Homo sapiens: one gene and its partners. The protein of the gene in region 3 purifies or fractionates together with the protein of the main gene of each other region. This does not show direct contact. Each region holds a gene or a part of one and is shown on either strand. Other genes may lie near its edges.

Region 1 (7,980 bases), on a different chromosome or scaffold from region 3:
TGCAGCCAGCATCGCCCGCTATCAACGGCCACGGGACCCGCATTACCTCCGAGAGTTTGACACACATCTGCTCCTCCCAGCCTTCCTCTGGTGGAGATTCTGGAAGGAACACCCAGTCCGCACCGCAGGCCAAGGCACTCACCAGGGCCAGGTACCTATGTGGACAAGGCAACAGCATCAACACCCCAGAAGGATCCTTCCCACGAGGGCAGCCCAGGCACCCCGCTCAGCGACAGACGTGCAGACCTAACGCCAGGTATGAAGCGGGATGCCGGCCCCTTCAGGACTTTCCACGGGAGCATTCAGGATGTGGGGTGCAGCCTCAGGGAGATGATGCTGAGGGTCCCCCACCTGAACCGCGTCCACCGGACCCACCGCAGGTACGTACCCACAGTGTCGTCCCATCACCTCCAGAACGAAGGTCCTCTGGTGGCTGGAAGAGAAACAGAGGGAGCCCCGGACACAGCTCAGAAAGCAGAGAAACAGAGGGAGCACCCACTCAGTCCTGGAAACAGCTCAGAAAGCAGAGAAAAGGGGCTTTGACAGCCGAGTTAGCCAGGAGGCCTGCAGGGACCTAGGCTTCAAAAATGGTCCATTTTCTACTAAGGCAAACGCTATGCAGTAGCCTTCCAGACTCCTGCGAGGAAGGGGACTTGAGCCACCTCTGCGCTCTCCAGTTGCACGTTGGACACCTTCTGCCTGCCTGTGCCAGGACACACTCACACTCCCCGGCCCCGTGCTGGGCTCTTTCCCAGATACCTTCTCTATTGGGCACAGTCGGCAGCTGCTGTCGACAGCCACGGCTGGATCTCTCCCACGGAAACAAGTGAGTGCCAGACTCACTAAGTGCTTAATGCCCAGAGACTGTGGGTCTTCCCAGGGAATGGAAAAATCCAACTGCTCCGAGCAGCCTTCCAACTCGGTGATTTTCCACCAACTGTGGGGTTCACGCCCACGCACTGAGAATGTCCAGTGAGGCGTCACTGGGAACAGGACACGCACACAGAGGACTGGGAGGCGCCATGCTGGGGACTGGATTCGGGCACTCTCCCAGTCTCGAGCACCTCGTCCTTAAAGGGGAGACACTTATTCTATTTACCATTCCACATGGTTTTCATGCAAATTGCTTCAGAAATTGTACGGTGCGCCCCACAGTCTTTAGTGATAACCTGCTGAGCCTAGAGCACCTCGGATCAAACGCTGTGGCCCCCACGACACTTCGTGAATCCGTAGGTTACACAGGGCAGGACATCGCTGGCTGCGTTTCTAATGAGTAGTGTGGAAAATCCACACAACAGTTTCCTGCTTGCCACTCCTTCTGGAGATGTTTGGGTAGGACATTTAGAGGATAATTACTTTGTTTCTTCCTTCCAAATTCTAATAAACTGTTTTCTATCATCAGGTTAAAAACAAGGAATGTTTTAAAATTAAAAATGAAAAGTAGACCAGAGAACAATGTTCTGGCAATAGCTCCTAAAAGTCAAGTTACGAGACCAGCACCAGGACACCCAATCTGCAGAATGTTCTAGAGCCCGTGGTAACGTCTGAGCTGGGCACACGTCGGGCCCCACTGGCCTCCCGCCGGTTCCTCTGAGCGCTTTACCTCTGGGCCGTGGTCATGATGGCGTCGACGACCTCGATGATCCTGTGCAGGGCGGAGTCCGTGCCGATGGTCATGTCGGTGCCGCAGAAATCATTGTCGATGGAGCCCACCATGCCCACCACGTTGAGGTAGGCGTACTTCTGCACGGCCTCCTTATCGATCTGGCCTGCGCGGGGAGCAAACAGCACGTCTCATCGCCGTAACCATGGCGCGTTCGGGGGGTGCCCCACTAGGGGTGAGGCAGAATGGCCATGGGTAGAGAAATCAACCATTCTAAACTCTTTGTTATTGGTATCATTTCTTTATTATCATTTTTCTGAGACAGGGTCTCACTGTTGACCAGGCTGGAGTGCAGTGGCACCATCATAGCCCACTGCAGCCTTGAACTCCTGGGCTCAGGCGATCCTTCTGCCTCAGTCTCCTGAGAAGCTAGAACTATGCCTGGCTGATTTCTTAATTTTTTTTGTAGACCCACACTCTATGTTGCCCAGGCGGGTCTTAAATTCCTGGGCTCAAGTGGTCCTTCTGCCTTGGCCTTCCAAAGTGCTGGGATTATAGGTGTGAGCCACTGCCCTGGCCGATTCTTTATTTTCTCCGAACTCAAGGCAACCGGATTCTGCATAGTTAAGGAAAGAGAAGCCAGACAAAGCTGGCAGCAGTTACACACAATGGACTCTGTCACCTGGCACTTAGACAAGAGCAGTGGATTAGAAAAATAAAAGAAAGGATCCACATTTGCAATCGGTAAACAAACATCTCAGTACTTCCTGGCAACAGCTTCAGAGAATGACACGGCTTTGAACAGGATACGTTACAATTACGGAATTAAGAATCTAAGACACTAGGCCATCTTCACACTGATTTCTCATGCATCTGTGGGAAGCTGGATCGTGGGTGAGCATCTGCCTCGCACTCAGGACAGACCTGGGCTGGGCAGTTCTGCATAAAGGGAATCGGAACCACTGAAGGGCCAGGGGCAAGCTTGGGCCCGGACTTGTGGCCACTGTCCCGGTCTGTGCACTCACTGTGCTGTGCCAGACGGGATGAGGTGGACAAGCGGGAACCGTGAGGCCTGGCTGCTTCCAACGGGCAGCCTTCTCCATCCCCTACGAGGATGTTCACAAACCTGGGGACAGCTGCTTTGCCTCAATGCCGCCTCTCATCGAGTTGCTGTTAAACAATATGCTTCCCTGGTCATATTTAATATTGCACTGAAATTACATAACCGCTTCAAGGGAGAAAAACTACACTTTGGGAGGCCGAAGCGGGTGGATGACCTGAGGTCAGGAGTTCGAGACCAGCCTGGCCAACATGGCGAAACCCTATCTCTACTAAAAATAAAAAATAAATAAAAAAATTTTAAAAAAGCTGGGTGTGGTGGCGCATGCCTGTAATCCCAGCTGCTTGGGAGGCTGAGGCAGGAGAATTGCTTGAACCCAGGAGGCAGATGTTGCAGTGAGCCGAGATCGTGCCACTGCACTCCAGCCTGGGCAATGGAGAAAGACTCTGTCTCAAAACAAACAAAATCAAACAATCAAACAAAACAAAAATAAACCACATACACACAGGGCTCTCAGAAACGCTTTCCTAAGTAGTGCCAAAGTTGGTACTGGATGATGTATTGGCAGAGATTTATCGTCTAAATAAATTAAAGTCCTGTGGCAACTTCAGTTTTTTTTTTTTTTTTTTTTTTTGAGACAGAGTCTCGCTCTGTCGCCCAGGCTGGAGTGCAGTGGCGGGACCTCGGCTCACTGCAAGCTCCGCCTCCCGGGTTCACGCCATTCTCCTGCCTCAGCCTCCCAAGTAGCTGGGACTACAGGCGCCCGCCACTACGCCCGGCTAATTTTTTGTATTTTTAGTAGAGACGGGGTTTCACCGTTTTAGCCGGGATGGTCTCGATCTCCTGACCTCGTGATCCGCCCGCCTCGGCCTCCCAAAGTGCTGGGATTACAGGCGTGAGCCACCGCGCCCGGCCCAACTTCAGTTTTAAAGGACCCCAGCGAGCTGGAGGGACACAGTGTGAGGGCTGAAAGGCGGATGCTAGTGTCCCAGGCTGCTGGGGACCCGGCTCGCCCCACGGCTGAGTGGCCGTTTGATTCCTCATCTGTAAATGGGATGATCTAAAACCTGGCTTAGATGGCTGTCGTGAGGATTCCATAAAGCTATCTGTGTGAAAGGTCGAAGGGTGCCTGGCACATGGTAAGGTTAAATTACTAGCATTCTTACGATCATTGCTGTTGTTTTTTGAGATCCTAAAAAGTCCTGAGATGGTGACCTGTAAGATCTGTGAGAAGAGGTACTTCTGCCACAGTGAAGAGGGAAACCTGTCGGTTCCAAAGCTCTGAAACAGGGCGAAAACCCGCAGGACAGAGGAGCAGGTGTCCACTCACCGTTCCTGGCCAGCTCCTCCAGCAGCCCACTCCACTCCTTCCGGAAGAGGTTGGCCCCGGTGAGGCTCCCGTCCCCGCCGATCACACACAGGTTGGTGATGCCGCGCTGCAGCAGGTTGCAAGCAGCCTTCAGGCGGCCTTCCCGCGTGCGGAAGGCCTGGCACCGCGCACTGCCAATGATCGTCCCGCCCTGGGAAAGACACCAGCTAATTTATCTCCTCTCAGTCTGAGAGAGCGCCAGGTGGATGGCACACACAGGCCGACTATAAACATGGGGTGCTAGAATTTACATTTTTCTCATTTTCATCTTGTGAGTTAGTAACTAGCTATGAAAGACTGTGATTTTCCTGTTTTTAGTCCCAGACCAGCATTCCATGGACAAAGACAGGCGCGTGACACCCAGGAGGAGCCAGGGAGGGTGCAGAGCCAGACACACGGCAGCCAGCAGTTAAATACATGGAGCAGGAACCAGCCTGCGGTGTCACAGCAGCCGCCTCAGCACCGGCCAACGAGCTCAACCAGGTGCACGTGGAACCAAAGACAAGCCCACTGACCACCAGAGCATGCCGGCCAGGACAAGGGAAGCGGTGTGACCAGCAGCCAGGCTTCTCCCTCCAGTCACCCCTTACAGCACCTGCAAGTAAAACCAGCAGGAACCTGGGGCCAGGGGGATTTTTTTTTTTTTTTTTTTTGCACCACATACTCGCTGCCCCTTTTAAAGAGCTATATCTTCAGGATCTTAAATTCTTTCATCCAAACTTCCAGGGGACATAGATCATGATTCGTCACACTTGGTTTTCCAAAAACTAAGAATTGTTGGTGGGATCCACAAATGCAAGATTTCTTTAAATAAAACCATGAATGCACCAAAAAACTCCATCCGTACGGGATCCCTAAGCGCGTGCTGACTTTGTCAAGCAAGGTGCTCATAAGCACAGCAGGGGTTGTCTCTGCACTGGAGGCGAAGCTCTCCCTGCCTTCGGTCTGCAGGCAGCTCCCAGGAGACCCCTGCAGTGACGTGAGTGCGTGTTTCGATACACCAATGGTGCACGCACACAGCTCATTTTCACACACAGAGACTCACTAATATTCCAAATCCCAGAAAAGCTCCTATTTTTACATGAAACCTACCACCATTTAATTTATCAAAACATTATGAAAAGGTTACAAAAACTGAAATTCACTCCACACGATCCTACGTCACTGGCACCAAGTGTGACCGAGACCATTTACAACCCAACCCCCAAGGCAAGTGAGGGTGGGGGCGCAGAGCAGGGCAGGGGTGCTCTCTGGACTCTGCCTGGACAAAAACCTGGGGGGCAGCACGAGAGCCAGCACAATGGGAGCTAGAGCCAGCAACCCAGAAACTCCAACCAAAGAGACGAGGTGGCCGCAACTCAGGAACGAAACCAGGATAACTGGGCTGCAGAGGAGTGGGTGCCATTCCCATTCTCTCACTCACTCTCTTTCACACACACACACACACACACACACACACCACACACCTACACATACAAGGACACCACATATACACACACCCCACACACAGATACACATTCGCTAGCCAGAAATTCACACAGTTAACACATACACACGGGCACACCACACATACACACTCAGACTCACACACCTACATACAGACACACACCAGACTCACACAGTTACACACACACCGAGATTCACACACCACATACACCACACACAGAAACACAGACTCACTGATACACATACGCACTTCAACTCTCCGTTCACATCTTATCTTCCTCCGTCAATCACGACCGCAGAATGGAAACGCTCCCCTGTGTGAATTCAGCCCACACTCTCCTGATGTTTTGCAAACGTTGCTCCACCTAACTTCCGTGGTTGTCAAAATTCCCTCCACCTCTCTTCTGATGTGTCGGAGCTCAGGAGGCGCCCAATGCAGAGAGAGCCTGGACCAGCACGAAGGTGTGGGCCCCATGAGCGTCTTCAGCGGGGAGGCACCGATTTGGATTATTTCTATTAACAAGTACTCAAAGTGACTCACAGATTAACACATGCATTTCTAAAAATCAAACCACAAGTAAAGAGCTGCTCACAAAGTCTGTTCTGTCCACATAATCTCTATTTCGCAACTGATCTGAGCTCAAGTGTTCTGGGAATTTACTAGACATAAAAGAGTCTCTAACTCAGAGAACCCTGTGGACGCAGCCCAGTACCTACCACTTGCAGGATGCTGGAGACACTCTCCCAGTCGGCCTCTGCGATGTTTGAGCCTCCGTCCACCATGCCCTGGTAGCCCTAGGGGAGAAAGGGAGAATCTTTTAAAAATGAGATAAACTTCACTAAATGGGAAGTGATCCTTAAATTATATAAAACGGGAAAAATGACAGTGAATGTCAGTTCCTCAGCATCCACTGGTCAGAAGACAGGGCAGTTCCAGCACTGGATAAAAGCAGTGAATTGTGGGAAAGTCCTCACCTTGAGTCCCTAGTAATGGGAACGTCTGCCTAGACTCAGCCTCACAGTGCAATGAGGAATCAAGCCATTCTCCTATGGCCCAGCGTTTCCCGAGAGGTTGAAAGGGTCGTGTTTCGCTAGAGGTTGAAAGGGGTCACTTTCACCCAACGTGTTTATCATACTTCAGCACAAACTCACAGGCACACAGCACTGTCGAGCACGGGACATACATGGGAGCATTTTGTCAGGGGCTCCGCCTGCCAAGGCACCCTGCGCCACTTGGGATGTATGTTGAATATTATTAAACAGCACAGCTGAATAATAATTGTCTGCCTTACCCTCCATTAATGACACGGTGCTGCATTAGGGAATCAGATATCAATATGTGAGGACACATTGATAGAAGAAGCCCAAGGACAATTACCTTTTTTTTTTTTTTTTTTGAGACGGAGTCTCACTCTGTCACCCAGGCTGGAGTGCAGTGGCGCGATCTCGGCTCACTGCAACCTGCCTCCCGGGTTGAAGTGATTCTCCTGCCTCAGCCTCCTGAGCAGCTGGGATTACAGGTGCCTGCCACTGCACCTGGCTAATTTTTGTAGCTTTTAGTAGAGACGGGGCTTCACCTTGTTGGCCATGCTGGTCTCAAACTCCTGACCTCATGATCCGCCTGCCTCAGCCTCCCAAAGTGCTGGAATTACAGGCGTGAGCCACCGCGCCTGGCCAACAATTACCTTTCAATGCTAAATGCATCCCCATCTTTTTCTCCACGGAATATACAAGATCAGGAAATGCAGCAATGCCCACGGGTAACTTCATCTACATAACTCACTTTCCACAGCATTTAATCTTAAGAAGGAATAACTATTAAGGATTTAGAAAAGTTCATGATAGATTATTGTTGGATCCATAAGCCCACCTTAGTGAAGGTCCGGAGGACAGAAAAAAGAAAGGTTTTTAAAATTGAAATGACTCATAGATTATGGAGTTCTATATATAAATTAATCAATAGTGCAGGCACCTTGATAGCTGGCCAATTTGTATACTTATATTTATAAATTTCTACCAGAAATATTATATATATATGTGTGTTTATTTTATTTTATTTTTGAGACAGAGTCTTGCTCTGTTGCCCAGGCTGGAGTGCAGTGGCACGATCTCGGCTCACTGCAACTTACATCTCCCAGGTTCAAGCAATTCTCCTGCCTCAGCCTCCAGAGTACTTGGGATTACAGGAACACACTACCACATCTGGCTAATTTTGTTTTTGTTTTAAAGTAGTGACAGGGTTTCACCATGTTGGCCAGGCTGGTTTCCAACTCTTGACCTCAAGTGATCTGCCTGCCTGGGCCTCCCAAAGTGCTGGGATTACAGGCGTGAGCCACCATGCCTGGCCACATGTGTGTTTATAATTTAGTGTCATACATGTAATAAACAAGAAAGGAGAAAACAGTCTGGAATGGAACAGAACCCAAAACAGAGCTGGTTCATTTCAGCGCTGGCAGCCCCGTCTGCACCTCCCGAGACCCCCCAGGCACCCAGGCCCTGGCT
Region 2 (7,266 bases), on a different chromosome or scaffold from region 3:
GGCCGTTGGCCAGCAGGGCAGCCTCAGCCCTGGGCGGGTCCAAGCTGGTGCCTCTGCGTGAAGAGGGTGGGGCCGGGTGGGGCCCGGCACCCGGGCTAAGGCCAGGTGAGGGGAGAGCCGGGCCACCCTGCACGGGGCCAGGTCTGGGAGAGCCGTCCAGGCAGAAGCCCCTGCTGGCCCAGTTGTGAGGCACAGCTGAGCGGGTACCGTGGCGTTGCTGCCACCCTGGGGCTCCGTGTGCCCTTCCCGGTCATGCCCGTGGTCTGGTTTGGGGCTTTGAGGAGAACGTGCAGAGTCGCCTGCTCCGTCGCTGCCCGGCATCCTGGGGTGGGTTCTCTGCTGCCCTGCAGGGCGCCCGTGTCGCCCACGGGACTGGTCACGTGATACGGGGCTGCTCCTGGCAGGCTGGGTGTATCTTACACCTTTATTTTTTGTGCCTGCTTAACTTATCAGTAACACACATTTCCTCACCAGAGTCTCAAGGCAAACCACCTCTTCTTTCTTTTTTCATGAGACGGTCTCACTCTGCTACCCAGCCTGCAGTGCAGTGGTGCAGTCTCGGCTCCCTGCAGCTGTACCTTCCAGGGCTCAGGCGATCCTCCTACCTCAGAAGCTGGGACCACAGGCACCATCACCGCGCCTGGCTAATTTTTGTATTTTTTGTACGGATAGATTCTGCCGTGTTGGCCGGGTTGGTCTCAAACTCTTGGACTTAAGTCATCCGCCTACTGCAGTCTCCCAAAGTGCTGGGATTATAGGCGTGAGCCACTGCGCCTAGTCTTAGCCTCTTTCTTTTTTTAATTTTTAATTTTTAATTGTTTAAGAGTGAGGGCCTCACTGTTGCCCAGGCTGGAGTGCAGTGGTGCGATCTCAGCTCACCTGTAGCCTCCACATCCTGGGCTCAATCTATCCTCCTTGGAGGACAGAAAAATAAAGGTGTAAGATACGTTCCTGCCAGGAACGGCCCATATCATGTGACCAGCCCCCATGGGGGCGGCCTCCTGAGTGACTGGGACCACCAGTGTGTGCCACCATGCCCAGCTGATTCAAAAACATATATTTTGTAGACACAAGGTCTCCCCATGTTGCCTAGGTAGGTCTCAAACTCTTGGATTTCAGAGGGTTCAAGTGACCCGCTCGGCCTCCCCCCGTCCTGGGGTTGCAGGCGCGAGTGACCCGCCTGCCTTGGCCTCTCCCCATCCTGGGGTTGCAGGCATGAGCCCCTGTGCCTGGCCTTGACCTTCTAGAATGACGCGGAGACTTTTGAGCCTGTTGGCTCTGCCTGCTCTTTTCCCAGTTCACGTACTCTTATCTGGAGTTTGGTCCTGTCCGTTCTAAATCCTGCAAATTGGACATTAAAAAAACTAAAAGTAAGAGGATCTCCCTGTGTTGCCCAGGCTGGTCTCAAAGTCCTGGGCTAAAGGGATCTGCCTGCCGCAGCCTCCCAGCATGCCGGGATTACAGGCACAAGCCCCAGTGCCCGGCCAAATTGGACGTTATTACTTCCTTTCCAAAAGAGTGGTTTACATTTTCCTCCCCACACACGGTTCGTGCCTCCACCCCGGTCCCGCGTTCCCTGCTGTCCTGACTGCGTCTTTAAGCTTCATCCCGTTGGTCCGGCCTGTTGGCGATGTGCTTGGGGCAGGAGGCCTTGCCCGTGCCCGCCCCCCAACTCTGATTGTGTCTGTCTTTCCTTGGTGCCACTTTATTTGGGTCTTTTCTGCCCAGGACATGGCCCACCTGGACCTAGAGCTCTGTGACATTTCTGTGAAGCCTCCGTCTACCTTTGGGACTCAGCAGAGGTGTGTTTAGAATTCACTCTGCGTTTTGGGGGTCCCCATGCATGCTGAGGTGCTGTTCCCTGCCCACCCGTGTCCGATCCGTCTTGGCCTCCCCGACCTCAGGGTGCCTAGGACCCCCCGACCTCTTTGGGTATTTGGTTTCTGGCTCAGGAAGAGCAGCTGCCGGGTCCTGGAGGAGGGGCCTGGGAAGCGCTGGCAGGCGTCACTCCTGCGACCTCCCACCCCTCCCTGCATGGCTCCTGCGAGGGTCACCGCGTGAGTCCGGGGGCTGCTGTCCTCGCGCCTCAGACCTGATTCTGGGGACCGCGGTGAAGGCGTGGCAGGCGGGCATCACTCCCTTCCCCCGCCTCCATCGCTGCCTCTCTCTGGGTCTGCGTCCTCTTCTCACAGGGACAGCAGTCGTTGACTCTCCCTGATCCAGGAGGGTCTCTCCAGATCCTTCCCTAACAGCAGAGGCCCGGCTCGTGGGGAGGGACTGGGACTCAAGGCTTCTTCACCAGCCTGAGGTTGGTGCTGGGGCTCGGCGGCGGCTGTGAGAATCCTGTGCTGGAGAAAGCGTCTCTCGGCCGGCCTGTCTGGGGCGTCTGTGCCTCTCCTGGATGGGTCTCAGTTTGGCCCCGTCCATCCATCCCAGGAGCTGCGGTGGAGCAGACAGGGAGGGGTGCCCCAGGAACCACAGCCCCGTCACTCCTGTCTTCCTTTAAGTGAACCGGTCGTGTAGATGGAGGTTGTTCAGAAAGGGATAAGATGGGACGGCAGCTGGGCCTCATCCCGCAGTGAGCGCGACGCAGAGGCTGCCGGGCTTGTGGCAGGGGCTTCGGCCAGGGCAGAGTCGGGCCTCACGTGCAGGGGGCTGAGTGTGGGCCTCAACACTGGACTTGGCCACTGACTGCAGTGAGCCCCAAGATGGGGCAGGAGGTGGTGTTTCTGTCCTGGAGACCCAGGGTGGCTTGGGTCCTTGGGATGTGTGGGGACCTCGGGGTGAGGGCCCGTTGGGGCCGGGTGGGCACGGCAGGAGAGCGGGGGCCACACACCCAGAGGCAGTGCCGTGTCCCGGCTGGGAGGGTTCCTGGGAAGCTCTGCTCAGCCCCAGTCTCAGTCATTTCTAGAAACTGTGTTTTCCTCCCTGTGACGTCACACGTGAAGGAAACGGAAAAGGGCAGTGAGTCCTTCGCCCCGCGGCGCCGTGCGCACGTCAGCCTTCAGGGTGATTCCGCTCCTCCAGAGGGGCAGGCGCGGGTGTGGGGGGTGGGGCCCAGGCCCATCCTGAGGGGTCCCAGGCATGAGGGGCTCTGAGCTGTGTCCTGGGGTGGTCTGGGCCATGGGGAGGTTCTGGATCATGTCTTGAGAGGTCTGGGCTGTGTGGGGGGTCCAGGCCATGTCCTGGGGGTCTGGGCTGTGTCTGTGGGGAGTCAGGGCCATCCATGTATTGGGGGTCTGGGGCAGGGGGGGGTCCAGGCTGTCTTGGGGAGTCCGGGCTGTGTGGAGGGGTCCAAGCTATGCCTTTGGGGATCAGGCCTGTGGGAGGCTCTGGGTTATGTCTTGGCGGGGGTCCAGGCTGTGTCTTAGGGGCTGGGCCATGTTCTGGGGACGTGTGAATCCTGGAGGGTGGGGCCCCGGTCTCGCGGGTGGCTGTGTCCCTCGAGTTCAGGCAGCACCTCTCGGAACTTTCTGGATTTGCGTGCTGGCGTCTGTCGGCCTCGATACCCACAGGCTGCGCCCCTCTCAGCACAGGAAGTCCTGGAGAACCTGAAGGACCGCTGGTACCAGGCGGACAGCCCCCCTGCAGACCTGCTGCTGACGGAGGAGGAGTTCCTGTCGTTCCTCCACCCCGAGCACAGCCGGGGAATGCTCAGGTTCATGGTGAAGGAGATCGTCCGGGACCTGGGTGAGGCTGGGTCCAGCCTGGCCGGCACGCCAGGACCCAGGACCGACTGGCAGGGGCCGGGCATCGTCGGGAGGTCGGGGCAGGTCCTGCGGGAGCCCCAGCCTGGGTGTGGGCTGACCCATTCCCGTCTCGCAGACCAGGACGGTGACAAGCAGCTCTCTGTGCCCGAGTTCATCTCCCTGCCCGTGGGCACCGTGGAGAACCAGCAGGGCCAGGACATTGACGACAACTGGGTGAAAGACAGAAAAAAGGAGTTTGAGGAGCTCATTGACTCCAACCACGACGGCATCGTGACCGCCGAGGAGCTGGAGGTGAGCCCTGGCGCAGCCGTGTCCCGGAGCCGGCCCTGCGAGGTGCTGTGGCGGGAGGGGCTGGTGGATCTGGGCCTGAGGCAGGAAGCTGTGCTGGTGTCTGGCCTGAGACTCCATCTGGGCTGGTCACTGGGGCGTTTGCTCAGCGGTGTCCACCAGGCTGCATGGCCGTTGTTGGCGTTTAGGTTCAGACGGATCAGAGACAGGCGAGCCTGGCCGGGCTCCATCCTCAGCCCCTTGCGGAGGCGTCAGGGTTCTCACAGCCCCTTTTTAACGGGACCACAAGGGGAAGCTCATGCTGGGCCCAGCATGGAGGCAGGTCCAAGGCCCAGCAGGTGCAGGTGGGCGGGGCGGCCTGTGCCACATGGCTGGAATTTACCACCTTCCTCTGAAGCGTTTTCACTGGTATCATGTGTAGGCTTGTTTTTCTCCCACTGCTGAGTGAGTCATCTTGTTTTTATGTAGAATCCTGTGATTCCTGGCGACAGCCAGTGGGCCCGGCCCAGGTTAGGGATCCTTCAGAACTGGGGTCCAGGCCTGTGTAGCCCCTGTGCCCCGTTACCCCTGCTGGCCCCGGGCAGGCCTTCCGGGGCCCCCGGCTTCTCCCTGCCCTGTGTTTTCATTTGTGCCGCCTCCCTTCGGGAACCTTCCAGAACGTGCCCACACTCCCGCTGCAGCCAATAGGCACCTTAAATAGCCACTTCGTGCGGCTGGCCGCGGAGCTCGGAGGGGGAAAGGCGACGCTGACCTGTGCCCCGCTCGCCCGCAGAGCTACATGGACCCCATGAACGAGTACAACGCGCTGAACGAGGCCAAGCAGATGATCGCCGTCGCCGACGAGAACCAGAACCACCACCTGGAGCCCGAGGAGGTGCTCAAGTACAGCGAGTTCTTCACGGGCAGCAAGCTGGTGGACTACGCGCGCAGCGTGCACGAGGAGTTTTGAGCGCCCGGCCGCGCCCCGCGCCGCCCCCCACGCACCACCGGGGCGGCCTCGCGGGTGACTCCGGGCTCCGTGGCTGTCCCGGACCCCACCTCTTCCCTGCCGCCCGCCACCGGCCGACCGACCGCGGCTGCCCCAGTTGATGAGCGGCGTGTCCCCTCTGCAGCGCGCACCCCGGCGGGGCTTTGGCTGTGACGCGGTCGGGGCGCGGGGCTGGGCTGTGGCCCCGCGGCGCCGCCTCCTCCCTGGTCCCTCGAAATCGTGGCATCTCACTTCTGAGAACGAAATCTCGCTTCAGTCACTCTGCCGAAGGCGCTGACGGCATCGCGGCCGGAACCTCTGGGCCCGGCCCCTCCCAGGGCCGCCGCTCCGTGGGAAAAAACAGCTCCTCCATTTCCTTGAAAACTGAACGATTATTAAAAATAGATTAAACTTCGCTGGAAATGAGTAGCCAGGAAGTTCAGGGGAGGGTGCCGGGTCCTTCCCGGGCCTGGCGTGTCGGAGCCACCCAGGTCCCGCAGCTGCCGCTGAGAAAATGCAAATATTTGTTGTGACAAGAATCACATACATTTACTTTAAATATAGTTGCCTTTTTTGGTCAGCTTCATTCTTTGGGCGTGAAACAAAACACAACAGCAGCGTGCTAGGTTTGTGGTTACAGTTTCCACTGGAGCGCTGGAGGCTGGTGCTGGGTCACGTGGAGGGTTGGAGGTCATGGCCGGTTCGAGGTGATTCTCCTGGCAGGTGGCAACGGGCAGGGGCTCTGGGAGGACGGAGGGCAGCGCTGCGTTTGTGAGTAGGGGTCAGGGGGCAGCAGACGTGCCCACTGAGTTTGGGGTTTGGACATTTAAGGCAGGAGACAGAGCCGCCTGGGGGTTTTGGGTGGAGGATGGCAAGGTCTTTGGGTGCAGTGGGGCAGGCCTAGCCCCAGATGGGGCAGAGAATGGGGTGTGTTAGGACGGCTGGTGGGGGTCCTGCTCTGTGGCGTGTGGGGGCCCAGGCTGTGTCCTGGCTCTCCCAGTGGGAGCTCAGGGAAGCCGGGAGTGTGTCCTCTTCAGTCTGCCCTGTGGTGCCCATGTGACCGGCCTCTGCCCTGAGCCCACCTGCCCAGGGGCCCCTGTGGGGCCGAGAGGGCGGGTTGGCACCTGGGCTGGTTCCCAGGCAAACGAGATTCACAGAGCCACGGCCAGCGCAGGTGGTGGGAGGATGGTCCCACGCCCTGCTCTAAGGGGCTGTAATTCCCTGGAGCCAACCTTCGGTGGCCTGGACTCTGTCTTTCCCCATCCGTGGCCCCAGGCCACAGCCAGGGACCATCATAGCTGCAGCAGCATTCGACGCCCTGTGCTGAGGGCCGTGCACCCAGAGGTGGGAGGTGTGAGCTGAGGCCATGCTGTGCTGGACATGAAGGCGGGGGGACAGCTGGGTATGTGGTGGCACCTGGCCCTTCAGAGGCCCCAGCCAGCTCCAGTCTGGTACTGGAGGAGCAGTGGCCACTCATGGGCTGCCCTGTGCCGCCCGCGACACTACTGTGTGGAGCGGGGAGCCCAGCTCCTGGGGATGTGGTTCGAGCTGCAGGCTGCCTTACAGACCTTGGGGGTCCTGAGCTCTGGGTCAGTGTCCAGCCTCCTGTGGCCACGCCACACCCGGTTCCATGGACACAGCAGGGCTTTCTTGGACCTGTGACCTTAAGCCCAGGACAAGGAGACCTGAGCTTCCTGGGCAGCTTCAAGCAGGAGGGGCCGTGCCCCATCCTGGGGCCATTGCAGTTGCCAGCAATATGCTGGGGGTGCCCTCTCCATGGTGCACGGGCCCCACTCACTGCACCTGTGGGCAGATGTGGCCACTTAGGCCCCAGGAGAGCAGTGTTGCCCACCAAGACCCCCAGTTCACCTGAACCTCCAAGGAACCAATTGCAAATGTAAGCTTTTTCTCACTGTCAGTGGGAAACCCTTGTGAACGCTGGGTGGAACCTTCCACAAAATGCCAGAACTTTCCTCCTCTGCCCACCTGGGTTGGGGTGTGCACATGCAGGTACACACACTGTCTGGGATGCTCTGAGCCCTTCCAGGGTCCTCTCTACTTGTGGGGACGTGGGGAGGGTGACCAACTTAGGGACCCTCAGTCCGAGGGCGGGTGGCCTCTCCCTCCACTCCCTCCCTCTCCAGGGCCAGCGGGCTCCACGGCTGGGAATTTCCCCACGGGTGGGCCGAGGACAGGCAGCTGTTTCCTGTGCTCCTGGGAGGAGGGGATTTCCAGCCCCTTCCCTGCTGCTCTGTTCCTAGAGGCCCCTCTCCACTTGCAACTTCAAAAATGAACTTTTGG
Region 3 (7,980 bases):
CAGCGGCCACTGTCATTCCTGCCAGGGGAAAAGTGCCGTTGAGCGCTGCCTGTGCAGGTGTCTTGGGCACGGGGACCCAAGTGACAGGGCTTGGGTATTTCGGCAGGCCTTTATCCTGCTTCCCCATGGCATGGAGCTCCTGGGCCCGGCGCCCCTTCCCTGCCTGCCCACCCGGGTGGCCTTTCCTCTTGGCAGCCAGGCCCCAGGGGCCTGAAGCCAGAGTCCAGGGGGAGGAGGACACGTGCCTGCCCCGGCCCCTCGGGAGTCCGTGGCTGTTTTGTAGGAGTTGGTGCCCTTGTGCTACCGCTGCTCCACCAACAACCCGCTGCTCAACAACCTGGGCAACGTCTGCATCAACTGCCGCCAGCCCTTCATCTTCTCCGCCTCTTCCTACGGTGAGTCCCTGCATCCTGAGCATGTGGGTGGGACAGCCTGTGGACAGCCAGGCTCACTCCACTGCTCTCTGGCCTCAGGACGTTGGGCAAGGGCCAAAGGCCTCTGAATGTCCCTGTTTATGAAATGAGGACACTCTGACGCCCACCTACCTGACACAAGGAGTCACTGTCGGTGTTCCCAGAGATAGGACCCACTGCTGCCCAAAGCTGAAGCACCCACTCTGGGAACCTGGCGCAGGGCTTTACATAACCAAATGCCCCAGAAAGAGAGTCCGATGGCTTTGCATTCAGACCAGGAGGCTGAGATAGGTTATCAAGGCCCAGCTCCTTTGATGTTGACAGAGGATCAGAAGCCCCTTCCCAGGAGCTGAGCAGAGGCCACACACACACACAGACACACACGCACACACAGACTGCCCCTGCACACACACACATACAGAAACTGCCCCTGCACACACACACACAGACTGTCCCTGAACACACACACAGACTGCTCCTGCACACACACACACAGACTGCCCCTGCACACACAGAGACTGCCCCTGCACACACACACAGAGACCGCCCCTGCACACACACACACAGAAACCGCCCCTGCACACACACGGAGACTGCCTCTGCACACACACACAGACTGCCCCTGCGTGCACACACAGACTGCCCCTACACACACACAGATTGCTCCTGCACACACACACACACACACACAGAGACTGCCCCTGCACACACACAGAGACTGCCCCTGCACACACACACAGAGACTGCCCCTGCACACACACACAGAGACTGCTCCTGCACACACATACAGAGACTGCCCCTGCACACACACACAGACTGCCCCTGCCCACACACACAGAGACCGCCCCTGCACACACACATGGAGACTGCCCCTGCACACACACATGGAGACTGCCCCTGCGTGCACACACAGAGACTGCCCCTGCACACACACAGATTGCTCCTGCACACACACACACACAGAGAGACTGCCCCTGCACACACACAGAGACTGCCCCTGCACACACACACACACACGGAGACTGCCCCTACACACACACACAGAAACTGCCCCTGCACACACACAGATTGCTCCTGCACACACACACACACACACACACACACACACAGAGAGACTGCCCCTGCACACACACACACAGACTGCCCCTGCACACAGACACACAGAGACCGCTCCTGCACACACACAGAGACTGCCCCTGCACACACACACAGAGACTGCCCCTGCACACACACACACACAGAGGCTGCCCCTGCACACACACAGACCGCTCCTGCACACAGACACACAGAGACCGCTCCTGCACACACACGGAGACTGCCCCTGCACACACACAGAGACTGCCCCTACACACACACACACAGACTGCCCCTGCACACACACACACACAGAAACTGCCCCTGCACACACACAGATTGCTCCTGCACACACACACACACACACACAGACTGCCCCTGCACACACACACAGAGACTGCCCCTGCACACAGACACACAGAGACCGCTCCTGCACACACACATGGAGACTGCCCCTGCACACACACGGAGACTGCCTCTGCACACACACAGAGACTGCCCCTACACACACACACAGACTGCCCCTGCACACACACACACACAGAAACTGCCCCTGCACACACACACATTGCTCCTGCACACACACACACACACACACACACACACACACAGAGACTGCTCCTGCACACACATACAGAGACTGCCCCTGCTGCCTCTTCTTGCTTTTGGTGAAGCTGCCAGTGGGTTGAGAAGCAACTCTGTGGTCACCCCACCTGCCTGGCGGCAAGTCCTTTGCAAGGCCTCCAGCCCCCTCAGCCCTTTCTCTATGCCCTCCAGACGTGCTACACCTGGTTGAGTTCTACCTGGAGGAAGGGATCACTGATGAAGAAGCCATCTCCCTCATCGACCTGGAGGTGCTGAGACCCAAGCGGGATGACAGACAGCTAGAGATTGCAAACAACAGTATCCATGCCCTTGGCCAGAGCCTGTGTGTGCGGCTGTGTGAGGGGTCTGGGGACAGGCGGGAAGTAGGAGGGCCCAGTCCCAGGGGATCGCGGGCCATGCTGAGCCTGGCCCTGTGTTCCCAGAGAGATTGGAGAGGCCCACATGGGACAGGGACAGGGATCAGAGATGGGCAGACAGCTGGCCAGGGCCTAAGGACCCAGAAGTGGCAAGTGGCACCTTGGTCTTCCCGTGTGGGTCTCCCACCCTCCCCTGACCCCTAAAAGGCACTGGCTGTGCCTCTGTCTGTGCATAGCTCCTGCATAGCCAACATGGGACATGATGTCATGATGTCGGTGTTGGCCCCCAGCTCTTCCACTCAAGTCACTTTCGCATGCAAGTGACAGAGTCCAAAACTGACAAGCTGAACAAGCAAAGGGTGTGCAAGGAAGCCCCAAGCAGGAGAGGAAGCTTCCTGGCCCAGCGCTCAGTCTGGTCGGTCACAGGCTGGCTCTGCCTCTCTTGGCCGCACTGTCCTCTGGGCAACTTCATTCTTTGGCAGCCCCGTGGTGCCCCCATAACACAGAGATGTCAGGAGCAGTGCCAGCCCCACATCCCCTCAGCCTTATAGCCCCCAGAAACAGCCAGCTTTCCTCTCAGCTGTGGCAGTGAAAGCCCCGGGGCACAGCTCAGCCTGCCCCTTGGCCAGGAGGATGCACCAGGGCAGTTGTCCAGGGCAGGCCACACTTGCAGGCTGGACATGGGAGGGGCTTCTGGCAGGGAACAGCACACACGTGGCCTGAGGCCTCGCTCCCTTGCACTGACTGAGTCTGCAGGCCTGGGGGCTGTAAGCCTGCCTTCCTTGCAGCTCCCAGGTGCTGCCACCCCCAGGGGCCACACTGGGAGGAGGGAAGCTCAGAGAGCTGCTTGCTGAAGGAAAGACGGACCCATCTCTGCCACCCAGGCTCCCTCAGGTGCCACAGATGATATGTGCTATGGTGCTGGCAGGTGGGTGCTGTGCCCACTCCAACTTGGTACCAGCAGTCCCCATGTCCTGGGCCTCCCTGCAGGACCCCTGCTGGCCTCTGTTACCAGCCCCACCACTGTGGGAGAGGGGCGGTTTCCAGGGACCTCCAGGTGAGTCTGACCCGCCCTGGGGTCAGCAGGGACTCTCGCCCCTGTCTGCTCCATCACAAGTGCCCGCAGACCCCCAGCAGCCACTGAATGTTTCTCCAGGATCCCTGGGCCCATCCCCTCCGTGCCTACCCGCAGTGGCTCACAGGGCCCGCATGTGCTTCCCACTGGCCCTGGGAGCTATGGTGTGTGTGGCCTGCGAGGGGAATGGGTGAGGGCAGCAGGGCCAGCAGAGTCCCTTCCTTCTGATTCCTTGGCCTGAGCCCCCTCTGTTCCTCCACCTGGAAAACTCTTCCACTGGTCTGGCTGCCCTTGAGTCTTCTCACAGGGGTGTAGGGTGGAGGCTAGGGTCTGTCTCCATCTCTGCTTCTGATTCCATCCTTGACCAGATCCCTCCAGGCTCCCAGATTCTGCGGCTAGTGGAGACCAAGGACTCCATCGGAGATGAGGACCCGTTCACAGCTAAGCTGAGCTTTGAGGTGAGGGTGCCTCTCTGGGTGACCTGCAGGAGGGCAGCCTCCATCCCTTCTCCTGTGCACATGGGGACCCTCAGCTAGCGCAGTGGTGGAGGAGGATTGGCCAGAACTTCCAGATGTGGTGGCACGAAGGAGGGGCAGGACCCCTTCCTGTGGGGTGTGGGAGCCATGGCTGCCCCCGAGGGACCATGGCCAAGGGCGCAGGTCTGTGGACAGGGAGGCAGCTTCAGCTCTGGTGGGAGGAGCTTGCCACTGTTAGGGTCACCTGGGTTTAGGAAGCAGGTCCTCTCTCACCACTGCCAAAGATTCCAGGATCATAATCCACACAGATGTCTCACTGTGGCTGAGTGAGGACACTGTGCCTCCTTCCCGCCCACCCTGCAGCAAGGTGGCTCAGAGTTCGTGCCAGTGGTGGTGAGCCGGCTGGTGCTGCGCTCCATGAGCCGCCGGGATGTCCTCATCAAGCGATGGCCCCCACCCCTGAGGTGGCAATACTTCCGCTCACTGCTGCCTGACGCCTCCATTACCATGTGCCCCTCCTGCTTCCAGGTAGGTGGCCACCCTGGTAGCTCACATGTGCTTCTCTTGGCCACTTTTCCCTTGCCCAAATGTCCCTCTGGGAGGCGTGGCCCCTGGGAGGAGGGGCACATCCATGGCTCCAAGTTGGGACAGAGGCTTGTCTGTCCTCTCCCCTGCTTGCATTCCATGTGCATCTAAAGTGGACTTCACTGGCCCCTGCGCTGTCCACATCCTCCCCAAATCCTGGGGGCCCAGCAAGCGTGATGTGCCCTTGACCTTCACTCAGAAAACAAGAAACCCCACAGCCCCCTCCCATCTCCCCTTCCAGCCCTCAAACAAAGGTGCTGCAGGTCTGTGTCCAGCCCTGACCACTGCCAAGCCCCCTCCCCTTGAGAGGCAGTGCGTCCTGGCCCCAGGCGTAGGGCTGATGAGCACTAGGGCTTCAGCCTGGTCTTACAGCTGTCTTCCCTTAGATGTTCCATTCTGAGGACTATGAGTTGCTGGTGCTTCAGCATGGCTGCTGCCCCTACTGCCGCAGGTGCAAGGATGACCCTGGCCCATGACCAGCATCCTGGGGACGGCCTGCACCCTCTGCCCGCCTTGGGGTCTGCTGGGCTGTGAAGGAGAATAAAGAGTTAAACTGTCAGAATGTGTTTCTTGCCCAGATGAAGTTTGTGTTTTGTGGGGGGGGCCTTGTGTAACCACGGAATTCCTATTTATGGCATTTCATGCCTTGTAAATAGCACCAGGAGATGAGGAAGAGAATGTACATATATTTTCTAAGGAAAAAAATCTGTTACTTTCAGAACGGCTCCGAGTTGTTCGTGGCAGCCTGCTGGAGTCCGCCGATCTGTCAGACCGTTAGCATGTACATTTTGCCAACAGATTGCCTCAATAATGACAAAAGGGCTCCTTATTTTCATCAGCATCTACATTTTAGCAAATCATCTTATTGTCTGCAACTTAATTTCCGTATGCAAAAGTGCACCTGTTTCTAATTTGAAAGGAACATTACATTTGTGTGCTCTTAACATTTAATCAAAATGGCAATATAGAAAGGGGTGGGGGAGCAGGGGGTTTTTTTGTTTATTTATTTTGATTTAATGGGGATCCATCTTGACAAGAGAAAATACGTGGGTCCAAAGAAGATGGCAGGAGTTTAAAAAAAGGCTCCTGTTTGGTAGCCCAGTCAAGGCTCCTGTCCAGGCTCTGGAGCCGCCCTCTTCCATCCACCTTCCCCAGCCCCACAGAGCAGCCCCAGCCCAATGGAGACTCTTCCCTTTGGAACAGCTCCTTAAGCAGGGGGTTTCCGTTTGAGATTCCAGACTGCCAAGGTCTGTTCCCTCAGGCATCACTGGTGTCCAGTCCAACAGCTTGAGGGCATGGAAGGAACAGCACACAGAAGCTAAGGAGAACTCACATGTATGGGGGACGTTTTTGGCACCAGCCACGTTCCATGCTGTCTCAGGCCTCTCAGCAGCCCTGTGAAGGAAGAGTTATGATTTCCAGTGGGGCTGGGAAGGGGGTTGCCAGGGCCCAGGGGCTGCCTCCAGCCCTGGGAGGGGCGGCCCATGATGTGTCCAGCCCCAAGGCCCTGCCCCTTTCACCCCCAGTCCACCTGCCAGAGGTGGCAATGCAGCACTTCATGAAAAGCCCAAGAACAGCTGGCACAGGCAGGAGAGAGGGTGTGGGCTGTCATGCCATGCCGAAACGCACCCTCCCCTCGTGCTGCAGTATTGATTCCTTACAACCTACCTGTGCAGGGGTCAGGGCAGGGCAAATATGCCCACTGGAGGGACGCAGACACTGAGACCCCAAGGAGAGTGGCTGCAGAGGCCCCCAGTGGGAAGTGTCGGAGCTAGAGCCCCATCCCAGAGCCCTTGCCCCACCCCAGACCGCCCCTCCTCCCTGCCTCCCTCCGCATCTCTCTGGAGATGATGGAGGAAAATAAAGAAAGGGAGCCAGACAGTTGTGCCAACAGAACTCCTCCGTCGAGTGTCTAATTACTTACCATCATGCATGCGCTCTCTCACTAAACATTTATTAATGTGTTAGGATTTCCATTAGCGCATGACTTCAACTGAAATCATTTGCATATGGCTGGGAAAAAGGGGAGAGGGAGAAAACAGCTCCAGCTACCCAGCAGTCAATCACAGTGACAGATCAGATGGTCCCTGGCTGGAGGCAGGGGAGGGTTCCAGCCGAGACTCCAGCATGCATCCCCTCAGCCGAAGAACACAAAAATGAGTGTGCTGTGCCGGGCTCTGCTGCCCCAGGAAGCTCAGCTCTAGAGGCCTGAGTAGGACCCCTATTCATTCAGATGCACTTTCCGTGCATCATCCAAGGCTGCCTATTACACAGGTGATGACACTGAGCCTCAGTCATGTTATTTTTCATTCAGCAAATATGCATTAAGCCAAGGCATATTTGGTCGCACCTGGGTGCAACCTTTGTGCATAAGCCCTGTGTCTGGCTGCTTTTCTCTCTCAGCCTGATCTGGGTCTGAACCAAGTCCAGTCTTTTCTCCAAGGCTGTTTCCCCATCTGCACAAAAGGGCCCCCTCCAGCTCTGACTCTGAGGTTCCAGCCTCAGTCTGCGTCTGTGAACAGCGCTGGATGATGATCCTGTTGACCCCTCAAGTGCCTGTGACAAGGAAGGCACCACAGGGACCTGGTGATGCCCATTGAACTAAGAGGACACTGAGGCCAGAGAGGAGCAGCTGCTGAAGGCTGCACGGTGGGGCAGTGATTCTGGCCTTTAGCCTGTAGTCCCAACTACTCAGGAGGCTGAGGTGGAAGGATCAATTGAGCCAAGGACAGGAATTCAAGGCTGCAGTAAGCTATGATTGCACCACTGCACTCCAGCCTGGGCAACAGAGCAACATTCATCTCTAAACAACATTTAAAAATTGTTTTAAGAAGACAAATGAGATAACTGTTGATCGTAATGGCTGTGTAAAAACTGAACATGGCTGGGTGTGGTCGCTCACACCTGTAATCTCAGCACTTTGGGAGGCCAAGGCAGGAGGATCGCTTGAGCCGGGAGTTAGAGACCAGCTCAGACAATATAGGGAGACCCCATCTGACTGGGACTGGTCCTGATCTCTCATCTCCAAGTGCTCAACATTGTGCCCATGTTCTTGGAAGGAGGAAGTAAGGGAGAGGTAGACTGAGCAGCCTCAGGTGGACCTGACTGGAGACGCACCTCAGGCAGCTGGAGGTCCCCGGGCCTTGGTTTCCCATCTGTCCCCAGCAAGGCTGTGAAGCTAGGAGCCCCTGGTGGCTGTCACACAGGTGGGCAGAGGCCCCTCCTCCAAGGTCGCTCTGTGTCTCTTCCCTGGCTTGGAGTCTGTGTGCCCACAGCAGAGGCCACCACTGGGCAGGGTGCTTACCCCGAGCCTCCCTGATTCTCCCCCTGCAGATCCAGAACACTGGCCTGGTATGGAGACCTCGTCATGGCCCTCCCTGCTTGCCACCCGCAGT
Region 4 (7,980 bases), on a different chromosome or scaffold from region 3:
GAGAGGTGGGACTTCTGATGAGATTAAAAGAAACTATTCAGCCAAGTATTAAGCCTATTTGTAGAAACCCAAGAAGATAGAAATGCTGATGATACCTCCCTCAGTTCTCTAGATGTTACAGTTTATAAAATGCTTCAGATGTTTCCTCCTGAAGTCTTAATGCATGCTGCAGGTTGGTAAGATGTTACTTTCCTCAGCAGAAGCCAAAGCTTTGAATGTCTTGGTAGCTACCAGGGTAATAGGGCCAAACGAGGAATGGGGTTCCATTAGGATTCAATTTCAGAACTTAAGGCTATTCCTCGTCCTTGTCAGTGGCATAAGTGCCATCTTAGTGATGAGAGAGCTGTTGGAGGTGGCCTTTAGCAGGATCTTATGGCAGGTTAATGAAGTCTTGCCATTTGATCTTCAGTGTCTCTGTGAAACAGATAAGTTTCAAGTTTACGTACCAATTCAGCAAGGTTAAGTGATTTGACCAAGAACACACAGCCAGTTCACCGTAGAGCTGAAACTAAAAATTTCATTTTGTGGATTCCAAATCTTCCTGTTCTGTTGTTTAACCATTCCATAGTAGGATGAGAACACTTTTGTCTAGATTGATTGTAGTTTGCAGAAAGATGTGGAGGAGAAAGGAGTATATACTGAGTAATATGTATAGTATCAGATGTTTTATATTCTGGGGTCGTTATCTTATTTAACCCTTAATATAACCTGAGAGGTTGGTCTTTGTTTCACAGATGAACTGACAGAGCACTCATTAACCTGGTAACTCATTTACCTGGTAACACCTCTTACAAGACACTTCCATAGGTTAGGATTTGGTGACCAGTCTAATGAAGTAGTGGAGATGGGGAGCAGGGATGGAGGAAGGGGAGGGATGGGTCAAAGATGATCCAAGGTTTCAACTTGGGTGACTGGAATAGTGATAATGCGTTAACTGAACTGTCACCTGGGTTTAGGGGAAAAAGTTCAGTTTTAGACAGGTTGAACTTGAAGTTGCAGGTAGGAGTCCCTGCCCATAGGCTATTGGAATTACTGGACTAGATCTTTTGGGAGCTAGAGCAACTGGAGTGGTCCGAGGGAGAGAGAAGAGCCAAAGGTGAAGAACAGGCCTTGGGGAATAATCTTGGTGGAGAGCAATAAGTTTCACAGAAACCAAGGGGACAACAGTCTCCAGCAGATGCTTAAGAGAGGTGTCATGTTTTCTGGAAGTGGTTCTCAACCATCAGCATCGCTTAAGGAACTTTTTTCTTTCTTTTTTTTTTTTTTTTTTTCCTGGAGATGGAGTCTCACTCTGTCGCCCAGGCTGGAGTGCAGTGGCATGATCTCAGCTCACTGCAACCTCCGCCTCCTGGGTTCAAGCAATTCTCCTGCCTCAGCCTCTCGAGTAGCTGGGACTGCAGGTGTGCGCCACCACGCCCGGCTGATTTTTGTATTTTTAGTAGAGATGGGGTTTCATCATGTTGGCGAGACTGGTCTCAAACTCCTGACCTTGTGTTCTGCCTGCCTCGGCCTCCTAAAGTGCTAGGATTACAGGTGTGAGCCACTGCGCCTGGCCAAGGAACTTTTAAAAGCACATATTCCTGGATATTTTGGTTGGGTAGATCAGGGTGAATCCTGGGAACCTGTTCTTTTTTTTATTTTTTTATTTTTTATTTTTGAGATGGAGTCTCATTCTGTTGTCCAGGCTGGAGTGCAGTGGCGCAATCTTGGCTCACTGCACCTCCTCCTCCCAGGTTCAAGTGATTCTCCTGCCTCAGCCTCCCGAGTAGCTGGGTTTACAGGCATGTACCACCATGCCTAGAGAATTTTTGTATTTTTAGTAGTAGAAATGGGGTTTCACCGTGTTGGCCAGGCTGGTCTTGAACTCCTGACCTCAGGTGATCACCCGCCTCAGCCTCCCAAAGTGCTGGGATTACAGACATGAGCTACTGCACCTGGCTGGAACCTGTTCTTTTATCCACAAAAGCTCATTTGACAGGAGGTTTGTAAAGGTGATTTCAGTATTGACAAGGGTTTTATTGTGGGGTGGGACAACACTGAATGAGACTGAGTGACTTGGTACCAGCATAACATTATTTCTTCGTGGTAGTAGGTGATCTCCTGACCTCCCCACTCCTACTCATCTGCCTCTTAGGGTTTTTTTTTTTTTCTGTCCCTAACTTGATGGCATAAGACTCCTTCCTGGGGTCTGCCTCTCCACCCCCACCAGATGTGGGATGCTTGGTGTCTCTGCTGAATATAGGCAGAGAAGAATTTGGATGGGAGTGCTGGGCTGCATCATTGTGGAACTTCAAAGCGTTCCCTTAATATTTTGGGGAGTACAGTGTTGGTGTAGAGTTAGGCAGCTCATACGTTTCCTTTTAAAAGTTTGCATAGCCTGGATACACAGCTTGAAGAACCTCAGCAGGAATGATGTATGTGAAAATTGCATTCCATTTTATAATACATTAGTATGTTTTAAGACAAAAATCGTTTAGACTGACAAGCCATTCATTATAATCGATAATGCTGTTTTTTTTGGAGTCCACTTTGAGAAGTGCTCCTTTGTAGAAGTCCTTGAAACTAGAATCAGGAAAGCTAGCTACATCCTGTTCCTTACATAAATTGTTGAGAAATCTTGGGAGAGTCACTTCACCTCTTGTCAGCTGAGAAGATTGATTGGAGGTTACAGATTAGAGTTCTCTTCCAGCCCTATGTTCTGTGACTCTAGAATGAGTACTGAGAACATGTGATAGTTGGGAGGTTGGCAGTGGTAGCACTTCCTGGTGGTGTGAATGGGTAGGTCAGAGAAGGCTGGATGTACTGAGTGAGCAGAGGCAGCTGCATGGTGAGGACTATCAAGTCTGGGGGTTCTGTGTTCGAAGTCTCAGGTGTTAGGAGAGAGAGATCTTGTTGCTTTGCTTTTGTGGAGTTAAGATGAAGATCTGGAGTATCAGCAGGATGAGCAACTCTGAAAGCATGGACTCAAAGCGGTAGAGACCCTAATGTTAGAATGAAGTCAGGGCTTCAGGTTATCTGCAGAAGTAAAAATGGTTCTGGTGTTGTTTCCAGTTTTTAACCTTTTAGGATTTTATTGATTTTTTTTTTTCCCCTCTGCCTACATCATCATCTCCCCACACTGTTTGGTGTGTGCTGCGTAGTTTTTTACTTCTTTTGCCAGCAGGAGCTGGGGCAAGTTACGTAACCTTTCCAAGCCTTATTTTTTTCTCATTTTTGAAATGTTGATGCTGTCTTCTTCACAGTATTTTTGTGAGGGTTTTGAGAGAATGTTTGTAAAATAATTTGACACAGTTAGTCTGTTAGCACCCTTTTGACTGCCCGCGCAGTGCACAGAACATTGTTATTTAATACCTGTCCGCATTCTAGCCCTTTGGAATCTGACTCCCACCCATGTCCCAGGTTGCTGTCTCAGCCTTTCCTTCCTCCAGTTATTGCAAGAGCTTTTGCCCTTCCTTGACAAGCCTATTCTTAGAGCTGTGGCATTTCCTCCAGTGGTTCCCTGTGGAAGATGTGCCTCTCATTCAGGGTCTAACTGGGATCCTCCTTGTTCCAAGAAGTCTCCCTAGATTTCTTTCGCCAGACATGCTCATTCCCACCCATACCCTGACAGGGAATTGAGGGCCTTGTCATGCCCCCTCTTGTATCAGAGTTTTCATGTGTGGGTATGTCTTGACTGTACTTTTTTGGTAGAGAGGTCCCAGCACCTTCATGGGTGTGACTGTTTCCCAGAAAATGTTAAGAACTTGTTTACACACCAGAATTTTGAGTTCTTAGGAGGCAGCAGAAATCATTTTGATGTTTTTTGTGCGTGCGTGTTTCTTGCACACTGTAGGCGCATAGTAGATGTTTGTTGAATTGAATGTCCATGCAGTGTGGTGAAAAACAGCAGCAGTCCTGTAAACCTGGTTCCATTTTGGGAATTGAAGTTCAGCCATATTTTCATGTTTCATTTGTGAGTCTGAATTTTGGTGCCTTTATAACCCACAGTTGTACCAGGACCGTGTATTCTTTGCATTGTGAACAAGACTGGGGTCTGTAAAATAATGACAACAAAGACCATCTAACTGTACATCTTTTAGGTATGTAAATATTGTTAGCCTTGGCTTATAAGTTTCTGATTTTGTTGATTTTGGAATCCTCCTGTTAAACACTGTTTACCTGTCAGCTTTTGGTGAAGTGGCAGTGCATTTCCATTTTGCCAGTGGGAAAACTTGTCAGTTTCTGACTTTTAGTTCTCTCCTTCACAGATTTTACGACATTTCTACAAGATATGTGGTACAGTATTGGGCAGATGAACTGATTGCTGGATTGGTGTTTGATTTTAGGTATTCAAAACCTTTGACCACATGGCCCGTCAGGATGATGAGAAGAGAAGGCAGGAACTTGAAGAGAAAATCAGAAGAAAGGAAGAGGAAGAGGCCAAGACTGTGTCAGCTGCTGCAGCTGAGAAGGAGCCAGTCCCAGTTCCAGTCCAGGAAATAGAGATTGACTCCACCACAGAATTGGATGGGCATCAGGAAGTAGAGAAAGTGCAGCCTCCAGGCCCTGTGAAGGAAATGGCCCATGGTTCACAGGAGGCAGAAGCTCCAGGAGCAGTTGCTGGTGCTGCTGAAGTCCCTAGGGAACCACCAATTCTTCCCAGGTGGGAATTTCTACTTTGCAGCTTCCTTCTTTCTTGCGTAACATCTGGTGTTTGGGTTTCTCCATAATTTATTCTTACTTTGTAACACATTAATTCTTGATCTCAGTATTTATTTAGCTCTTCATGTTTGTAAACTGCTGCATTACAGTCTTTCAGTTATGTAGGATGGGAGGTCAGTTGGCTTAAGGTCAGTTCCCTCATTTGGTAAGGTCAGTAGTCATACAACCATTTGAGATCCAGAGCCAAAATTAGAGCACTTGACTCCTCTCACAAAGACCTAACTTTATCTGTGTTTAGAGGCTTAGCCTCAGCAGCTCGATTGTTTGTGTTTTTCTCTCTGCAGGAGCACTGCTAGGATTTGCTCATGATGCCTGAGGTATAATGGACACCTGAAATGACAGTCTGTTTTAGGTGACTGGATTCACATCCTCGCTATGCCGCTTCCTGAATGTATTACCTTGAACAAGCAGTATAACCTTTCTGTGTCTCAGTTTTCTTCTCTATAAAATGTAGGTGATAATAATAGTACCTGTCTCATAGAGCTGTTGTGAATTTTAAATGAGCCGATAGTCAAGCAGCTAATGAGCAGTAGAGCTTGAATATGACATGAGGTTTCCCTGAATCAAGCCTCTTGCTTTATGTACTTGTACTCACTTTTTAGGAGTTATGTTTTGTGGGTGCTCTAAACTTAGTTATACAGTCCTTCCTTACAGTCTGAGTGAGAGGAGCTGATCCCTTCTTGTGTGGGAGTTGTAGTAGTGTCTGCAAGACAGCCACGAGCCTCCTGGCCTGCTTTGTTTTTTTGGAAAATTCACTCTCTTCCCTCCTTGATAGGATGGGTCACCTGTGTGCCCCCAAATCCCTGCCACCTTGAGTTCTCTTCTGTTTTTCTCACTCCTTTACTCTCTTTCTGACGTGTTTTGGGGGAGATTGTGTGTGTGCGTGCACACTTTTTAATAGAGACCGGATCTTACTCTGTTGGCCAGGCTGGAGTGCAGTGGTGTGATCATAGCGCAATATATGAATTGAACTCTTGGGCTCCAGCAATCCTCTCGCCTCAGCCTCCTGAGTAGCTGGGACCATAGGCATGCACCACCACATCTGGTTAATTTTGTAATTTTTTGTAGAGATGTCTGCCACTATACCTGGCTAAATTTTAAAAATATTTTCTTGCTGTATTGCCTAGGCTGTGGGGGAGTTTTTGTTTTTTTTTCTAGTTAATGAAGCAAAGTGAACAACTTGGAATGGCTTATAAAATATGGAGTAAGAGAAAATAAGTTTTGTAAAGACAGGAGGGGCAAGATTGCAGAGTCTTAAAGTCCAGGCTAACTAATGGAGTTCGAAGAAAACAATTGTTTGATGGCAGAACCAAGCTGATGGAGAAGGGGAGCAGCTCTTGAATATGGAGCTCTGGATGAGAAGGGGTGAAATAAGGATTTAGAGATTGGAAGTGGGGAGTATAGGGTGGAAGGCAGACATCTGATATTTCCTTGCAGATCTTTTTAAAATATTTTTTATAGTGCAGATCTGCTGATAGTGAATTCTTTCAGCTTTTTTGTCTGAAAATGCCTTTATTTCATCTTCCATTTCTGAGGATATTTTTGCTGGATATAGAATTGCAGGTTGACACTTTTTTTTTGTTTTTGTTTTTCTTCAAACATTTTAAAGACTATCATTCCATTGTCTTCTAGCTTGCACTGTCTCTGATGAGAAGTGAGTAGACATTCTTTGTTCCCCTGTGTGTGAAATATCCCCATTCTCTTGTTATATCAGTTCCTTGAAGTTATTATCATTAGTTTGAGCAATTTGATTAAGATTTACTCATGCATGATAGTCCTTGTGTTTATACTATTGGGAGACTTTTGAGCACACACACACATACACACACACACACACACACTTAGGAGGTCTGTTTTCTCTTTGTCCTTCCTTTGGAATATTTTCTGTTGACCTGTCTTCAACTTTACTGTCTTTTCTCCTTTGGTGTCTAATCTGTAGTTAAACTCATCTAGTAACTTCTTAATTTCAGATAGTTTATTTTTTAGCCCTGCAGGTTCCCCTTGATTGTTTTTTATGGCTTCAATTTCTACCTTGGTTTTCCTTTAAATCCTTCAATATACTTACAATAGTTTAAAGTCTTTATCTGCTAATTCCATTATCTCTGTGATTTCTTGGTTTGTTTCTAGGGATTGAGTTTTCTCCTGATTTTGGGTTACATTTTCTTTTTCTTTCAAATGTCTGATAATTTTTTATTGGATGCTAGACATTAATGGATGTTATGCTGTCGAGTCTCTGGGTTTTGATTTCTTCTGTTGAGTGTTGAGTTTTGTTCTTGCAGGCAATTAATTTATTTGCTGATCAGAATGATCTTTTTGAAGCTTGTTTTTTATTTGTATTGATTGATCAATTGATTGTAGAGATGGAGTCTTAATATGTTACCCAGGCTAATCTCGAACTCCTGGTCCCAAATGATCTTCCCACCTTTGCTTACCAAAGTGCTGGGATTATAGGTGTGCACCAATGTGTCTGGCCTTGTTTTTCAGCTTTGTTAAGCTGTATCTAGGGTACTTTTATTTTAAAGCTAGCTTAGTCTTCTAAGACATGCCTTTTTGGGGCTTCTGAGTGCTCCAGCTGTTAGTGAGGTCTTTCCATTCTGACTGGTTGAGGCTTGAACGTCTCCCAGCTCTAGGGATTGTCCATGTCAGTTACCCAGGTTTCCTACTTGTCTCATGGAGTTGCACTTTACACATGTGCAGTTTTGTATTCAGCCAAAGACTCAAGGGGATCCTATGAGGTTTTTTGGAGTTCTTTCTATGCGCAGCCTCCTTACTAGTAGTCTTTCTGTAAAATAATCAGATGTAAGAATGAAGATTTAATATACAAAGTTGTTTGTCATAGTCCACTTAGGCTGCTATAACAAAATAATATAGCCTGGGTGGCTTATAGACTACATAAATTTATTGCTCACAGTTCTGGATACTGGAAGTCTAAGGTCAAGGTACTGGCAGATTCAGTGTCTGGTGAGGGCCCACATTCTGATTCGTAGTTACCTTGCTGTGTCCTCAAATGGTGGAAGAGGTGAGAGAACTCTCTCAAATCTTTTATGAGGGCACTAATTCCAGTCATGAAGGCAGAGCCCTGATCACCTCCCAAAGTACTCATCCCAATATCTTGGGATTAAGATTTACCGTAGGAATTTTGGGACACAAACATTCAGTCTATAGCATTGTTCACTTCAGTTCTATTTATTCCAACATTACTTATATTAGCAAAATTTTGGAAGAATGCTGAATTTCTGTAGTAAGGGAATGGAGAAATACATTTATAAAATGCTTTTA

What was found.
Region 1: the proteins of IFT122 (region 3) and PFKP purify together in Homo sapiens (affinity purification with mass spectrometry; one large-scale study listed by BioGRID and IntAct). This does not show direct contact.
Region 2: the proteins of IFT122 (region 3) and SDF4 purify together in Homo sapiens (affinity purification with mass spectrometry, with the first as the bait; one large-scale study listed by BioGRID). This does not show direct contact.
Region 4: the proteins of IFT122 (region 3) and NUDCD3 purify together in Homo sapiens (affinity purification with a luminescence readout; one large-scale study listed by IntAct). This does not show direct contact.

Annotation. Positions count from the first base shown.
Region 1 is NC_000010.11:3,097,568-3,105,547, reverse strand, and holds part of PFKP (ATP-dependent 6-phosphofructokinase, platelet type), read right to left. Parts: intron 6,274-7,980; coding exon 6,196-6,273; intron 4,628-6,195; coding exon of another isoform or gene 4,548-4,627; intron 4,184-4,547; coding exon 3,994-4,183; intron 1,770-3,993; coding exon 1,604-1,769; intron 940-1,603; exon of another isoform or gene 434-939; coding exon 389-433; intron 156-388; coding exon 47-155; intron 1-46. UniProt on the Homo sapiens protein: Catalyzes the phosphorylation of D-fructose 6-phosphate to fructose 1,6-bisphosphate by ATP, the first committing step of glycolysis.
Region 2 is NC_000001.11:1,215,193-1,222,458, reverse strand, and holds the end of SDF4 (45 kDa calcium-binding protein isoform 2 precursor), read left to right. Parts: intron 1-1,728; coding exon of another isoform or gene 1,729-1,760; exon of another isoform or gene 1,761-3,525; intron 3,526-3,531; coding exon 3,532-3,690; intron 3,691-3,825; coding exon 3,826-4,001; intron 4,002-4,654; coding exon of another isoform or gene 4,655-4,770; coding exon 4,771-4,947; 3' UTR 4,948-5,528; downstream 5,529-7,266. UniProt on the Homo sapiens protein: May regulate calcium-dependent activities in the endoplasmic reticulum lumen or post-ER compartment. Isoform 5 may be involved in the exocytosis of zymogens by pancreatic acini.
Region 3 is NC_000003.12:129,515,205-129,523,184, forward strand, and holds the end of IFT122 (intraflagellar transport protein 122 homolog), read left to right. Parts: intron 1-283; coding exon 284-395; intron 396-2,264; coding exon 2,265-2,390; intron 2,391-3,902; coding exon 3,903-3,982; intron 3,983-4,363; coding exon 4,364-4,528; intron 4,529-4,971; coding exon 4,972-5,061; 3' UTR 5,062-5,303; downstream 5,304-7,980. UniProt on the Homo sapiens protein: As a component of the IFT complex A (IFT-A), a complex required for retrograde ciliary transport and entry into cilia of G protein-coupled receptors (GPCRs), it is required in ciliogenesis and ciliary protein trafficking.
Region 4 is NC_000007.14:44,481,630-44,489,609, reverse strand, and holds part of NUDCD3 (nudC domain-containing protein 3), read left to right. Parts: intron 1-4,325; coding exon 4,326-4,642; intron 4,643-7,980.